Linked DNA regions of Homo sapiens: region 2 is linked to region 1. The links come from fine-mapping of genetic effects on gene expression. Tissue or cell type: whole blood. Region 1 holds a variant in brackets; the other region holds the start of a gene. All regions are shown on one strand. Distances are between the middles of the regions.

Region 1 (8,096 bases):
CTCACTGCGAGCTCCACCTCTCGGGTTCACACCATTCTCCTGCCTCAGCCTCCCAAGTAGCTGGGACTACAGGCGCCCACCACCACAGTTGGCTAATTTTTTGTATATTTAGTGGAGATGGGGTTTCACCATGTTAGCCAGGATGGTCTTGATTTCCTGACCTCGTGATCCACCCACCTCAGCCTCCCAAAGTGCTGGGATGACAGGCGTGAGCCACCGCGCCGGGCCCAATAGTGATGTTTTTACTGCTCTGGGCCTGATCGCATGCACCGTTGTCTGTGCTGTGACTTCCGTCGTTGTCTGTGCTGTGACTTCCGTTGTTGTCTGTGCTGTGACTTCCGTTGTTGTCTGTGTTGCGACTTCTGTGGGATATTCGTTGGAGAAGGAGCCACACAGCTGTGTGGGACCCGGCACTCCTTCATCACCATCATCCAGGGCCACGGACACCCCCTCTCACAAGTCGCTGGGATATGAAATTAGGGAATAAATGGGAATTTTCAGTGCGATGCAGCTGGCGCTAGGATCCTCCTCAGTGTGACGTCTGAGACCTTTTCCCAGCTGGAGCCCTGTCATTCATTCATTCATTCATCCCATGCCAGGCTGGGCGGCTGCCAGAGGCACAATCCGGAACCGCCCCTTGCTAATGGGCGGACCAGTGAAAGCAAAGCGGGCTCACTGTGCAGACCAATGATTGACAGTTCCAGGGTGTGATGGACACAGGCGGCTGCCAGGAAGGAGCCCCTTCAGAAGCAGTGGGCGGGGCGGGGTGGGGAAGGCCGTGGGGAGGAGTGACTTCCAGATGAGGCTCACAGGACTGTACCCGGAGGGAGGGGGCAGCAAGGACCCTGTGGGCAGCCGGGGGCACGGCACAGGCTGTGGCTGTAGGTGTGGGTGGTGCCCAGGCATTGACAGAGGGGAGCTCACTGGACGGGGCAGCGTGGAGGTGAGGGTCGGGTGAGGGCCCCTCGGGAGCCCCTGGCCATGTTAGTTGCACATTTCATGACTCTTTAAGGAGTTAGTGAGGCCTGGGTGTGACCTATTTCCCGTTCCAATTAAACAGGTCATTAGTCCGTGTCGTGCTAAAGCAGATCACTCGCAAGGAATGGAAAACCCTTGAAATACGTTTTTTAAATCGGTGAAAGTGAGAAACTGATGCCTCTGTGGGAAAAGACCAGACTCCAGGGTCTGCACCCTCAGAGTGATGAGCTGCGTCTGTTAGGGGTGACCTGAGGTCCCTGCTTTGAACCAGCTTGTTGAAACCGGAAGCCATTTCTCATCTTCTGTAAGAGCCTGCAGCCCCTGTCAGATGCCAGCCATTCCCCAGGTCTTGCTGACACTGTCATTAGGATTCCTATGAGGGCCAGTGGGGAGACAGCTCAGTCTCGGCCCTGCTTCCGACCCCACCACCACCCCCAAATGCATACTGCTGGCCTTTCCTGGGTTTAATTTTATTTTGCAGTGGTAGAGGTTGTTTTGCTAAAATTATTTCAAAATCTGCCTTGTGGAAAAACGCCCACGTCAGGGTGACCATCTGTGGTAACCGAGAATTCCTTGGAGGCAGCGTCTTCACCGCCTGGCTAAGCGGATGGCACAAGCTGCCAGCCAGACCTCTGTCTGTCCCTGCCCAGAGGCCCCAGCTGCCCCTTCCTCCAGGCACCTCCCTGATCTCTGGAGTCCAGGTTTTGTTCCCAAGGTCCTACCTTTGTATCTAAATGCTGTGTCCTCTCCCCGGACGATCTCCTCCAGGCACTGGCTCTCAGGGGCCAGCTCCCCATGGGCGATGATGTCTCTGATACAGGAACTTATGGGTACCTTGCAAGTTTGCACAGAAAGTGGAGCCCGTCTGTTCCTTCTGGGGTGTGCGAGCGGGGCCTCGGGGAGCAGGTGCAGGACAGGGCACAGGAGGAACAGGCACGGCTGGTGGTGTGCAGTGAACAGCAGTGGTCACACCAGGTGGTGGCTCCCGTGGGACTTTTGAGGCCGGCCCAGCCCTGAGCAGGTGGGGTCTGCAGAGGCCTCGTGGGTTGGAGGAGACTTATTCAGAGGGAGTTTTGGTCTTGCTAGAAATTGCATGAGATGAAAGATGACATTTTAATTCTATCATTGAGGCATAGTCTTTCCAACACACCCCCTGAGGTGTGAGGGAGGCTGTCCCTATATGATGTGGTCCCCGCTCCTTCAGGCTGGGGCTCCTGGCCAGTTCATCTTTCGTCCTGTGTCTGACTTTCTCTATCATTTCTAAAATGACTAAGACAATTTATTTTGTTAAAAAAAAAAAAAAAAAAAGGCGTTAAGATGATTCTACTTTGTAGAGGGATCCCAAGGGAGCGTCTCCTCTGGGACTGGCCCTGTCCCCCATCTTGTTTTCCCTCTAAACGACATGTGAGTTCCCAACTCTTGATTTTAGTTCTGACAACTGGAGACTTTATTCCCATACCTTTTTAAAACTTTTTAAAAGGTTTAACTTCAAGGAGATACCATTCCTTTTGTGTATTTGGTTACTAAAGCTGTCTTGCATCTCAAATGTGATTTAAGAAATCAAGCAAAATGCACTGGCCACGTCCTCTCAGTAGGGGGAGGCCAGCGGGCATCTCCCCTCCTCGCCCCTTCTCTGGTGGTCTCACTGATGTCCCCCGGCCCCCAGCCCTCCTTCCTTTCTTTCCCTTGACTTTGTCCTCAGACTCCAGGGACAACCCCTGGTGCGAGACATCCTGTTGCTGATTTACTTGTTCTCTCATTTGTTTCTGTGTTTGTTCCATTTCTTTCGTTCATTCATTCATTCATTCATACTCAGCTGCGGAGACCATCAGCCAGTCTGCGTTCGGCCTGTGTCTGCCACTGGCTGCAGGGCCCGGGGCAAAGGTCTTCAAGTGCCCTGGGCTTCAGTTCCCCTTCCTGGAGAATGAGGGTGGGAGAGCACCTCCCCTGGGGGTTTGCGAAGATGACATGAGCCCGTGCATCCTGGGTCTGGACCGCATCTGATACTTAGCAGGTACTTAGCAGCAGGTACTGAGTAGACACAGTGCTCCACAGCAAAGATGTGTGGCAGAGGCGTAGTGGATGCGTGATCGAGACGCACAGTAGACACGCAAGGATACACGGCAGAGATACGTGGTGGGTATATAATGGATACAGCGGGCGTGGTGGATTTATAACAGATATGTAGCAGATATGTGATAGGAGCCAGGCATGGTAATGACAAGTCAGGAATGTCACAGAGGACTGTGTCTTCTGGGGGTCCTGGGGCCTTTTCACGAGGAAGGATTGCAGGTGGGGCTTTGGAAAAATTGTCCAATTTCCATCCCCTGTCTCCTTTCCCCGGTCACCGCTCCTACCCAGTAGCAGGTGGAGAAGGTGACTTCCATACTGGGGGCCAGGATCAGGAGCAGCCACATGCCAGAGCGGGTAGGCAGCCCCTGGTGCCTGCCTGGCCCTGCCCCGACCTCCACACCAGTTCAGCCCTGTGTCCTGCCCAGGATGGATGGGTGGGTAATTTATTGATTCATTCATTTCCAGGGTCTCGTGTGGGCTTTGTGAAGCCTAGTACACGTTTTTTATTGCGTTTTTTTTTTTGTTTGTTTTGTTTTGTTTTGTTTTTGAGATGAAGTCTCACTGTGCTGCCCAGGCTGGAGTGCAGTGGTGCAATCTTGGCTCACTGCAAGCCCCGTCTCCCAAGTTCACACCATTCTCCTGCCTCAGCCTCCCGAGTAGCTGGGAGTACAGGCGCCCACCACCACGTCCC[G/A]CTAATTTTTTGTATTTTTAGTAGAGATGGGGTTTCACTGTGTTAGCCGGGATGGTCTCGATCTCCTGACCTCGTGATCCGCCCGCCTTGGCCTCCCAAAGTGCTAGGATTACAGGTGTGAGCCACCGTGCCCGGCCCTCGTTTTTGTTTGTTTTACTTTGTTATGAGTAATGATAGATTTCTAGAAACTTCGTGTATTTTTTTCTCCACTTTATTTCAACTTTGTAGAAAGAGATCTAAAAATGCAAGTCTCCTCCCCCAACCCCCAACTCTCCTGCGTCACGGATTGGTTCAGAACCAGGAGACACAGGGCCCAGAAACCTAGGGGCTGGAGGGGCCTTACCCTTTGGACTCTTGACTGTTTTTATATTCTGGCCCCTCCCCCCGTCTGTCTCTCTCTCAAGAGACAGGGTCTTGCTCTGTCGCCCAGGCTGGAGTACAGTGGTACAATCACGGCTCACTGCAGCTGGGCTCAAGCAAGCCTCCCACCTCAGCCTCCCAACTAGCTGGGACTTCAGGCGCGCACCACCACGCTTGGCTAATTTTTTATTTTTAGTAGAGTTGGGGGTCTTGATTTGTTACCCAGGCTGGTCTGGAATGCCCCAAGTGATTCTCCCACTTCGCCCGCCCAAAGTACTGGGAGCCACCACGCCGGGCTAGACTGTGGGGTTTTTGGGGGGCAAGAATTGTACTCATATCTCTGTTTCCACAGTGGGTCTTACACTGTGGACAAACAGCAGCTGATGTTCTCACCCGGCCTTGTTCTAAGAGGACTCCAAAAAGCAAGTCGTAGCCCCAGTGACTGGGAAAGGCTTCCCCGGGAGAGCGGCCGACACAGCTGCCGCAGTAGTAAGGGTTTATTTATCAAGACTGATTTATTTATCAGTTCAAGACACAGTTACACAGAGTGTGGGGGATGGTTCATCAGCAGCTGGCACGTCCAGTGGCGCGTGTGCCTCGGGAAGGCCTGGGAGGGGGACACAGGTGCTCCGCAGGGAAAGCTGCCCCCACCCCAGCCCAAAGAAGCCCTCCAAGCTCCATCAGTCATGCAGTCATGTACTTTTCCTCATCAGCACAAACCCCGCTTCCTTGAAGAGAAGCGTGAGGCTGGGCACGGTGGCGCGTGTCTGTAGGCCTAGCTACGAGGGAGGATCGCTTGAGCCCAGGAGGTCGAGGCTGCAGGGCTATGATTGCAACACTGCACTCTGGCCTGGGCAACAGAGAAAGAGAGAGAGGACTGTCTAGAAGGGAAAACAGGGATAGCAAAGTAGATGGGAAGGAAGGGCCTCTGGGGCGGCGGGTGAGTGCTGGCCGCTCCCCTCTCCACAAGCTGCTGTGGTCTCTGGGGGCTGCACCTGAGGCGGCAGTGGGAGGAGAGGGGTGAAGGGCAACGCGCCCCCGTTTAAACACCTCCTGGCCTGGACGCCAGCTGTTCACTTGTAATCACTGGTCACCCTGAAGAGATGGGATGGACCCCTGCCCAACATTTGGCTCAGGTGTCCACACAGATGACAGCACCGCACGCAGACGGGAGGGAGCTTCTCACCACATAATGAGGTTTTCTGGGGAGAGCAGGGGAGGGGGGTCTTCCAGGATGGTCCAGAAAGGTCTTGAGCGCGCCTGTAAGGAGACTGTCTCGGTTTCCGTGGCGGCTCTGGGGCAAGGCGGGGTGAGCAGGGGCTGAGGCTTGCAGGGTTTGAACTTTCCCCAGGGCCCTCATCACCTCACTGGGATGTGGGCGGGAGGGGAGCGGGTCGTCTCAAACACCTCCAGCAGTCGAACATCAAAAAGGGGGTCCAACTCTTGGTTGCGATTTCTTTGGCTGAAGCCTGGACTCCTAGCCCCACGGGCTGAGGGAAGGTTACGGCTGGTGGTTGGATAGACGCCAGTGCTTGCCCCAGAGCTGCAGGGGAAGAAGGTGGCCTGAACCTCAGGGCCTCTGTGTCCAGTTCAGGGGCCAGTACAGCAGCATCGGTCTGCGAGGGGTATGTGTTCTAGAGGAGTGAGGGGACAGACAGGGGAGCCCCAGAGGCATCCAGTGGCGCGAATGGTGGGAAGGGCCCTAAGAGGGGAGGCTGGGAGGGGACAATCCCAGGTGGCAGGGGATGGCCGCGATGAGGCCCTGGGGTGGAGCCCAGGCAGGGAGCATCCAGGGGAAGCCAGTGTGGGTGGGGACTGGGAGGAGAGAGGGAGGCTGGGCCTGCCCTGGCGAGGGGTGGTCAGAACATCGCTCGGTGCCAGACAGGCAGGACGCAGCGGGCTGGCCTGCGGGGCTCACTGCTGCCCCCCGGGGCCGAGCACGAAAGGGAGAGTTGGAGGGCGCTTCCTCGCCGGGTGTTGCGGTGTGAGCGGGGACTGGTGAGTGTGTGCTGTCTTCAGAGAGAGAAGAGCAGTTTTCAGGGTGAGTAGCCTTTATTCTTCACACCTCATTACACAGCACCCAGGCCTTTTATTCAGGAGGGCGCGGCCGGCCTCACCCCGACAGCCACCCTGGCTTGTTGACCTTGATCTGTGACAGCTCCCCTGTGAGTTCAGACTTCTCAAGGACGCTTGCATAGCCAACATTGTTGAGAACGAGTAACCCCTTATCACAGCACACGTCTGTCGTGCCATGAAGCAATTTCCCATCCCTGTGGCTTTGAAGGCATAAGTCACTGCGTCACGGCCATGCTGTTCCTTCCAAACCTGCTCGTCAGGAGACAGCTCTTGCGCTGTGTACCGGCACTGCCGCCCAGCAGGTGACCCCAGCAGCTGGTTTGTCCCTGCCTGGGGGTGAGGGCCTGCAGGGTGTTTGTAGACGCAACTCTTGAAAGGCCCTGAGGTTGGGGCTTGGTCATGAGGGTGCCCGGGGCCCATCCGGGAGTAGAAGTAAGTGCACTAGGCATTTGGCCAAGGGTCACGTTAGGCCTTATTTATTTATTTTTTGAGACAGTCTCACTCTTTTGCCCAGGCTGGAGTGCAGTGGCGTGATCTCAGCTCACTGCAACCTTCGCCTCCCGGGTTCAAGCGATTCTCTTGCCTCGGCCTCCCGAGTAGCTGGGATTACAGGCACCTGCCACCATGCGCAGCTAATTTTTGTATTTTTAGTAGAGACGGGGTTTCACCATGTTGGCCAGGCCGGTCTCAAACTCCTGACCTCAAGTGGTCCACCCACCTCAGCCTCCCAAAGTGCTGGGATTACAGGCGTGAGCTGCCACTCCTGGCCAGGTCTTTTTTCAAATAAATGTCTAAGCAAAATGAATTTGGGGTGAAGTAGTCACAGAGCTGTCAGGAGGAGCAGGGTGGCTGCGTGCCCCTGGGAGCTGCTGTGGGTGATGACCAGGTGATGCCGGGAAGGTCACTTTCAGACACATAGTTGTCATCGTCGGATGAGAATTATTCTCAGGTCTCAGGTGGGAGGGGCTGCCCACCAGGCCTGGATGAGGCCCCACCCCCCCACACACACATGCTGGGACCACGAGTGGCACCCCCTGAGGATGAGGGGGCTCCTGCGTTTGTGCCCTGTGTGGGAGGTGCCACCTCATTTGCATGTGGCCCTTCCACGTCTCCTGGCCATGCCAGACAGGTCCTCAGGATTGTTGGGAGATGAGGGCCTCGCCCAGGACTTCGATGGGGTGTCCCCCCAGCCCCCTGTGGCTGATGGAGCAGCCTGACATTTTGTGGACACAAAGCCCCCTAGAGCCAGGGAAGGACAGGGCCGGACCCAGAGCCAGGGAAGGGAGGTGGAGCTCCAGCCAAGGCATCCAAACATCAAAAGGCAGAACTGAGCGGCTTGGTACTTGAAAAGTTTTTATTAGGAAAAATGCCAAACTGACAGAAGTAGAGAGAATTACATAGTGAGGCCTCGTGCACACCCTGCCTGGCTCCTGGCAACCTGCACTCCAGCCGATACCTGTGACTCTCAGCAAGCCCCTCTAGTGGGCGAGGACCTCCACACGTGTCGCCAGGCCAGGCGACTCTCAGCAAGCCCCTCCAGTGGGCGAGGACCTCCACACGTGTCACCAGGCCAGGTAACTCTCAGCAAGCCCCTCTGGTGGGCGAGGACCTCCACACGTGTCACCAGGCCAGGTAACTCTCAGCAAGCCCCTCCAGTGGGCGAGGACCTCCACACGTGTCACCAGGCCAGGTAACTCTCAGCAAGCCCCTCTGGTGGGCGAGGACCTCCACGTGTGTCACCAGGCCAGGTAACTCTCAGCAAGCCCCTCCGGTGGGCGAGGACCTCCATGCGTGTCACCAGGCCAGGTAACTCTCAGCAAGCCCCTCTGGTGGGCGAGGACCTCCACACGTGTCACCAGGCCAGGTGACTCTTCAGCAGGCCCCTCTGGTGGGCGAGGACCTCCACACGTGTCACCAG
Region 2 (8,085 bases), 92 kb after region 1:
CTGCCACTCTGGGAGGCCCCACGCGGCCCCTGCACCTCTCAGGAGGGCGCTGGCGCTGGGATGGTGGCCGGCCAGGCAGGGGTGGCAGGAGAAAACCCATCCGAGTCCTGCAGGTCAGCGCCCTGGGCATCCAGTGGGGCCGGGAGGGGTGTCTGAGCGCAGCCACCTTCTATCCCCGGCCTCATGTGGCCCCATCAGCCCAACTGGAGCGGCTGGAAATGACCATCACCAGGCCTGGCCAAGGTGTGGCCCTGGAAGCCAGGACAGTTGACTTCCGGCCATGACTCCCGGAGAGTGCCGGAGCTGGCGTGCTCAGCAGAGCTGCCGGGGACGATGTCCCGGGGCTGAGTGGGCGGCTTCAGCCTAGACTTGGGCCTAGATCTTGCTGGAGGCCAAGTGGTCAGTGTCCCATCAGAGTGACCATCCCTCACACGCCACTGCTGGGGGACACACCCCCACTGAGCGGCCAAGTCCACAGGACACGTGTCCCTGTGTCCACCTGTCAGCCACACCGCCCCTCGCTCCCCTACAGCCTCTGCCCTCAGACCAGTCCACGGCGCGCCGTTTTACCCTTGGGCTTTGCTGTGTCCCTTCCTTTGGCTCCTGTGCCCCGTCTGTGTGGCCACTGCAACCCTCAAGTCCCCCTCTCCAGACCATAGCTGGACCCCCACTCCCGGGGCTGGCTCCAGCAGCCATCAGCTGCCTTCTCACTCTGGCAGAGCCCACCCAGTGCCTTCTGAAGCCCCCGAGGGTCACTCAGTCTGAGACTTTCCGGCTTCTGCCCATCCTGGGAACCAGCCCCTCCCTCCAGAAGCTTTCTCTAAGGTTGCCAGAAGGTGCTAAGATCTGAACCGAGGTCATCTTGTCCCGGGGTTTCCAGGCAGCGTCCCTTGTTTGGGGGCCCTCTGAGATGCCTTCAGACCCCCGCCTGTGGCGGAAGAGCTTTGTCCTGGCCTGATCTGCCCTGTCCGTGACGCTTCTGCTCAGTAGCTGAGCACGCCCTGTGGTGTGGACAGGCCAGCCCGGCTGCAGGACAGTGGGGGCTCAGTCCAGAAGCCTCTGGTGGCTTCTGCGTGTGGGCAGGGGAGCAGGGCTGCAGGGTGGGCTGGCACCTGGCAGCGTGAGGGGCCTCAGGGCTGTTAAAATCCCAACGACCGGCCGGGCGCGGTGGCTCACGCCTGTAATCCCAGCACTTTGGGAGGCCGAGACGGGCGGATCACCTGAGATCAGTTCAAGACCAGCCTGACCAACATGGTGAAACCCTGTCTCTACTAAAAATACAAAAATTAGCCAGGTGTGGTGACGCCTGTAATCCCAGCTACTCAGGAGACTGAGGCAGGAGAATCGCTTGAACCCGGGAGGCAGATGTTGCAGTGAGCCGAGATCATGCCACTGCACTCCAGCCTGGGCGACAGAGCGAGACACCGTCTCAAAAAAAAAAAAAAATCCCAGTGACCAACCCAGGGCCTCGCCACATCAACAGAGACAAAACGCAGCTCTGGCTCTCAACATCCTCACCCCTCACCAGGTGCCCAGCTTCCCATCCACCCACGTGACCCGCAGGTGTCTGAAAATGCACAAAATGTCCAAATAGGACCACAAGAAGATCTTAAAGACACAAAGAACATTCTACATAGTTTGTCAAATCCAGCATTTGACGGTCCTCTGGGTGACCCGGAGAACACCAAGGCTGTGAGAAATGGGAGGCCTCCTGGCAGCTCCACTCCCCAGACCCGCCTCTGCCAGGGCTCCAGGCTCAGCAGGCGCCTGTGCGGGACAGGGCGACGGTTCAAGACCAAGTCCGGCTGTTAGACCAGACCCTCCAATCCAGGCGGCCTCCCTGCTGGGGTCCTGTGCGGTCAGGAGTCCCAGGGCATCCCAGGGTGGCTGTGCAAACCCTTGTTCCCAAAGATATGGGGCTTGTCCCCCAGCTAGCCTGCCCATGCGGTGGCCACAGCCTCGGGTGAGTTCCGGTTCCAAAGTACCGGCTCTCCCTTACGATCAAGTGTTCGAATGTGCTTGAAGCATTCCAGACACACCAAGGCCTGGACCTGACTTCATTGACGCCTACTTAGGAAAAATTGAGGCAGTCTGCCAAGCTTTCAGCAACTGCTTAAAAAGCTCAAAATGGCAAGTTTTTCCTCGTGAACGTCCTTGTCTTCAGAAGTCTTTTTTTAGACTATCTGGAAAAGCAGGCGATGCAAAGACAAAAGCCCCTCCCCGGGGGGCGGGGGGCAGCACCCTGACAGCAACAAGGATCTCAGAGCTTCAGCCAAGAGCATGGATTTCTCCCCAGGGCTCCCAACAGTACCCTCTGTCCGTGATTCAGGGTCTTACTCTGTCACCCAGGCTGGAGTGCAGTGGTGCAATCATACTTCACTACAGCCTCCAATTCCTGGCTCAAGGGAATCCTCCCACTTCAGCCTCCAGAGTAGCTAGGACCACAGGCACGCGCCACCACGCCCAGGCATGTAAAGATGGGATCTTGCCATGTTGCCCAGGCTGGTCTCAAACTCCTGGGCTCCAGCAACCCACCTGCCTCAGCCTCTCAAAGGGCTGGGATTACAGGCGTGAGCCACCGTGCCCGGCCTTTTCTTTTGTTGTTGTTGTTGTTGGCTGCCAACTTTGGACTCCGGTGCCTTCGCATTCCCGAGCTGTTTTTGCTTCTGGAAGACCAGGGGCATCAGGCATGACTGAAGGACCTGGTCTCCATAAGCTCTGAAACCTGCCGCCCATTAACTCAACCAAAAGTTACGAACCAGCATCATTCACACCACCCCAGCCCCAGGACCTGCTCCGGAGGCCAAGGGCCCAGAGGTCGCCAGACACAAGGCCAGGCACTGGGCAGTTTGGGTTATCTTGTTAGCAAAACTGGGTTCCATTCCCCTTTACTTAAAAAATACATAAAAATATACGTTGGGTTTCAAAAATAAGAAAAAGCATCTCCAGACAAAAAAGACGATCTTCATTTTTAAAACCCATGACGCACTCTCGGGAAGGTGTTCCTGTGCTCTGGGCCTGGGGACGCTGGTGCCACCAGATTCCAGGATGGCCAGGTGGACCCGGGGCCAGTGCTCCCAGCCTTCCTTCTGTGCTGTTCTGTGGGCCCCCAGCCTGCCCTGCCCACAGAGCACGGCAAGCAGGTGGACCCCAGACCCGTGACAGAGAGCCACCTGGACATGCCAGGCCACAGCACTGGGCCACCTTTCCAGTGTGAAACAGGGCTTTAAAAGCCAGCGCTGAGCTCGGCCACCTCTTGACCTTCTGAACGGCTGTGGTTTCCAAACACGGATGGATAACCGGGCCGGGCGCAGGGGTGGCCTACTCACCTGGGGGCGAACTCCTTCTGGCACATGGGGCAGCTGCGCAGGGCCGCGGCACCCTCCACAGACGGCTGCTGCTCCACCCTGGGGGCCCTGCAGGGATCAGGTGCCGGGCGCTGGGGCAGGGACCTGGCGGGGGATTCCAGGTGCCCTCCTGCCCCGTGAAGCAGCCGGTAGGAACGGCCCGGGCCCCACAGGTCCGGCGGAAAGGGTGTCCAGGAAAAGGTCTTGGGTCCGACAGTGAAGACTTCAGTGGGCTCCGGGCCGCACCTGGGCTCCTGCAACACAGAGTTGTTGGGCCTTGCCCAGCGATGGCTCCCGCCCTGGAAACCCCTTCATCGCTAAGATGGGCCCAGTGGGCACACCTGTCCTGGGAAGGCGGGCAGTGAAGGCACCTCGTGATCCAGGATCAGCTCCGGGCTCACCGTGCGCAGTAGCTCGGCCCAGAGCCGCTCCCGCTCATCACCCCCCAGGAGAAACCAGGGGCGGCCGCCAGAAGGCCTGGGGCAGACAGAGAGGGCAGACAGGGGGTACTCAGTAGCGGAAACGCTATGGTGGGGAGACCCGGGAGGGCCTGGGGCAGAGAGAGCGGGGAGATGGGGGGTACTAGAGGGAAATTCGATGGTGCGGGAGGTGGCCGGCAGGGTTGGGGGAAGGGCTGCTGGGGCAGACAGTGCGGAGATGAGGGGTACTGGGGGTGGGGGAGCGGGGTGGGTGGGTGGAAATATGGGGTCCTCAGCGGGATGAGGCGATGGTTGGGGAGATTGCGGAGGGCCTGGGGAAGGTAGAGGGTTAGATGGGGGGTGCTCAGGGGAGACGCGATGATGGGAGAGGCGCGGGAGGGCCTGGGGCGGCGCGGGGGAAGCTCGGCGTGGGGTGGGGGCTCAAGGCGGGCGCTGAATGGCGGCGCGGGGTGGGGCGACGGGCGTGGGGGCCGGGCCCGGGGGCAGGGAGCCCTCCCCAGGGGGAGAATAGAGCGGGAGGCCCGCGGGGGCGCCGGGAAGCACGTGGGAGCGGGAAAACCGGCCGCGCCCCCGCCCGGCTCCCGGCCTCACCCGCCCGCCGGGCGCGGCCTCCGGCGGCTCAACCCCAGCCGCGGCCTCCGCGCCGCCTCCATCCAAGCCCGCGCCGGGCGGAAGTGAGCGCAAGCCCCGCCCCCGCCCCTCCAGGCCCCGCCCCCGCCCCGGCCCCGCCTCCAGACCTCTGCAGCGAGGCCGCCCCCCTCCGAGACAGTCGGAACCCCAGGGGCCCTGATCCCAGCCTGTAGGGAAACTGAGGCCAGGGTTCCTTCGTCCTGCACCGCACAGGGGGGCCTGGCGTGAGGGTGGGGGGCCCAGGTGGGGGAGCCCCGCCCGTGTCCCCTTTCCCGTCCGGGCAGCCCCCGGGCCGGAGCCCCCTCCGTTACCCCGATGGCTGCCCGGCCCGCCCCGGCACTGCCTCCTCCCGGCTGCACCCAACAGCTCCCGCCCCCGTTTCCGGCTCTGCGGAGCCGCCTCTCCTCCCAGGACCATTCCAGGAGTAAATAAAGCTTGAAATCCGCCGTCGCCACCACCGTTTCTTTACAAAAGGCGGGGAACTCAAGCTCCTTAACCAAGAAACCAGAGGCGAAGTGACAAAGTCCAGGTGGCTCACTTGGGCCTCAGGGGCCTGGGCCAGGGCCCTGGGGGCAGCTGAGGGGCTTTCCTGCCTGGACCCCGGGCTCTGCGACCTCAAAGTCGGCCACGTGGTGGCAGCAGCCGCCCAGGCACCCTGGTGCCACACTTGGCTGTGCCCAGTGCCCCATGGGCCCAGGCCACTTGCCTCTCCCTTGGCCCTGCTGGGCCCTGGAGTGGCTGCCACCCTCACGGAAGGAGTGGGGTCTACAGAGATCAGGGTCAGGGGCCCTCGCCAGACGCCACTCAGGGCTCTGGGACTCCTTGGCAGTTTCTGCCCTGCCCAGCCCCAGCAGCTTTGGGGCTATGCTGGGCACCCCTCCTGCAGGGCTCCCTGGCTGTTCCTACCCCTCACCTGGCCCCTCCCAGCCCCCAGTCGTCTGTGCCCTCCCTCCAGAACTCAGCTGTGGAGCCCGGCCCTGAACCCAGGCCACCCGAGTGGCCCACCGTCCTTCAAGGGGCCCCAGCCTGGAGGCCATAGGTTGGTGTTCAGGGAAAGGGTCAGCAGCAGGGCCTGGACTGGGAGGTCCCCCTCTCCCTGCATGAGTGGTTTTCTTCCGCACACCTTCCTGCTCTAGATGCTGGAGGCCCCCAGCAGAACAAGATGGAGGCACCAACCCCCAGGCCCTTCGACTTGAGTGAGCAGATGGAGATGCAGCGCTGAGTGCTGCCCGGGCAGGGGGAGGGGGCCTGGGGGAGCTGCTGCAGGCCGTGTGGTCTCAGGGGGCCCTGTGGGAGGTAGCCTGTGGCTGGGCCTGCTCTCAGGCGAGAGAAGCCCAGCCGTGGGGTCTCTGCAGCCCCACGTCCACCACATGGCAGGTGCCAGCTGACCAAGCGCTCTCAGACAGCCAGTGTCCAGGGCTCCCCGACAGTCCTGGCTGCCCTGGCTTCAGCTCCGAGCTTCTGGGTCTTTCCTGGAAATGTCACCATGGTCTGCAGGAGGGCCTTGGGTACTTCCAGGAAGACTGGTCCCAGCCTCCCAAGACAGGAGAAAAGGCCAGGCCCAGCAGCCCATGCCTGCAATTCTAGGACTTGGGGAGGTCCAGGCAGGCAGATTGCTTGAGCCCAGGAGTTTGAGACCAGCCTGGGCAACATGGCAAGACCTTGTCTCTATAAATAAAAAATTAGCTGGGCATGGTGGCATGTGCCTGTGGTCCCACCTACTTGGGTGGCTAAGGTGGGAGGATCACCTGAGCCCAGGTAGGTGGGGGCTGCAGTGAGGCAAGATCGTGCCACTGCACTCCAGACCCCAACTCAAAAAAAAAAAAAAATAGGCCAGGTGTGGTGGCTCAAGCCTGCAATCCCAGCACTTTGGGAGGCCAAGTCGGGAGGATCACTTGAGGCCAGGAGTTTGAGACCAGCCTGGCCAACATGCAGAAACCCCATCTCTACTAAAAATACAAAAATTAGCCGGGCATGGTGGTGCACACCTTTAATCCCAACTACTTGGGTGGCTGAGGCACGAAAACCACCTGAGCCTAGGAGGCATAGGTTGTGGTGAGCCAAGATCGCACCACTGCACAACAGCTTGGGCATCACAGCAAGACTCTGTCTCGAAAAACAAAAAAAGACAGAGGAGAAAAGCCCTTGGTGACAAGTGTTTGCTCAGCTCTCTGTGCCGTGCTGGGGGTGGTGGGGGGTGTTCTTGCTCCTTCCTCTCCCTTCCCCACTCTGGCTCCCAACCCCAGGGTTCTGCTGTTGGACCCGGGGGTGGCTCCTGCCTCCTCCTCCTCTATGGCCCCCACATGGTCCAGTGCCCTCCTGCCATGGGACCGGCCGGCCTCTGGATGGGCTCCGAGCCCCCTGGGACCCATCTCCTTCCCTGCCTGGGTCCCTTGGGCAGAGCCTGGGAAACTCAGGCCCCTGCCCTGTCCTGGAGGACCATGTGAGGGACACCTGTGTGTGGCTGCTGCCCCAGAACAGGGGCCTTTCTGGGCGGGAGGACCCAGCCCCCACCCCTGGAAAGCCAAACACTAGAGCTTTGCTGGGGTCTTCAGCATCCTTCCAGCCCCTCCCGGCTCCCCCATGCAGGTGCCCTGGCCACTGGGCCCAAGAGGGGCAGAGCCGAGCAGAAGCAGGGCGGGGTCTCAAGTGACCCAGACCCGGGACACCTGCGCTGCCCGGCTGGCGCAGGCTGCTTGGGAAGCTCTCGCTGCGGGTGCCCCAAGGGTAGGAGGCACGGGCCTGCAGGGGACCTCAGGGCTGGCTGAGCCTGGCTCCAGCCCGCATCACTGAAGCTGGGGGGCCCCCATCCCCTTGAGTCTTAGCCACCCCAGTGGGCCTCATTTACCCTTGGCCACCAGGGAAGAGGAGCCAGGGCCCCAGGCCAGTGCCATGGGGCAGAAGGCAGGGCCTCTGGGCCTGGTGCTTTGGGGACGCAGAGGCAGCACAACGTGTCACAGTTGTCCTCCTGGGGGCTCTTCCCCTCCAGTTTATCTGCTGCTCTGGATTAATCTCCCCTCCTCCCATGTCACCACTGGGGAGGGGGCAGTGGGGCAGGCCCCTGTGACCTACAGCCAGAGATAAGTCCACAGAGAAAGGCACTGGGGTGACCTCTGCTCTGGGCACGTGGCGGGTGCCTCCACTTGTCAGGAAGCCTGACCCCCAATCCCCTCCCGCCTGACAGCTTCCCGACAGCTGCCTGCCAGCCGAGGGCCTGGAAGGGGACCGGCCACTCAAGACTCTCAAGACAAGGAAGCATGTTCACCTCCAACAAACATACCTTGTCCTGCCTGTCCTCAAGTTATCAGCATGACACAGCGGTGCTGGTGATGGTGATGGTGGAGGTTTCAAAGTTGAACCTGATGAAAACGCTCCACTTCTTCGGAGCCATCTGCTGCTGTGGTGACGGAGTTTTGCTTTATTGGAAAATAATTTCTGGTTGGGACTGACACGTGCACAGTGGAAATGAGTTTTTTCTAAGCCAAAATTCATGTTTACAAAAGAACGTTTCAGCTGTGGGAGTTTGCATCCCAGGCAGAGCAGAAGGTGATCGAGTGGGTGGGGGCATCAGAGCCACCCATCTCCTACTCCCGCACCTGCAGACCGGTGGGCTAGGAGGCCCCTTACCCTCTGTGGCAAAAAAGGACACATTTATGGATGATGAATCA

What was found. PIP is the estimated chance that this variant, and not a neighbour inherited with it, causes the effect.
Region 2: it holds the start of FAAP20, and the variant in region 1 is fine-mapped to the expression of FAAP20 in whole blood (TOPMed, PIP above 0.99).

Annotation. Positions count from the first base shown.
Region 1 is chr1:2,098,753-2,106,848 of GRCh38, forward strand. All of the region lies in intron 4 of PRKCZ (protein kinase C zeta), which reads left to right. Among named protein-coding and RNA genes, the nearest start is that of PRKCZ, 52 kb to the left of the region's middle. The variant G/A (reference allele first, on the strand shown) is at 3,743.
Region 2 is chr1:2,190,310-2,198,394 of GRCh38, forward strand. It overlaps FAAP20 (FA core complex associated protein 20), which reads right to left and starts at 4,463. Exons shown (of 4, transcript NM_182533.4): 1 at 4,379-4,463; 2 at 3,689-3,824; 3 at 3,330-3,601. The coding sequence starts at 4,440. LOC112268219 (a long non-coding RNA gene) reads left to right here. Exons shown (of 1, transcript NR_168005.1): 1 at 1-2,149. RefSeq lists silencers at 4,218-4,307, 4,318-4,797 and an enhancer at 5,431-6,097.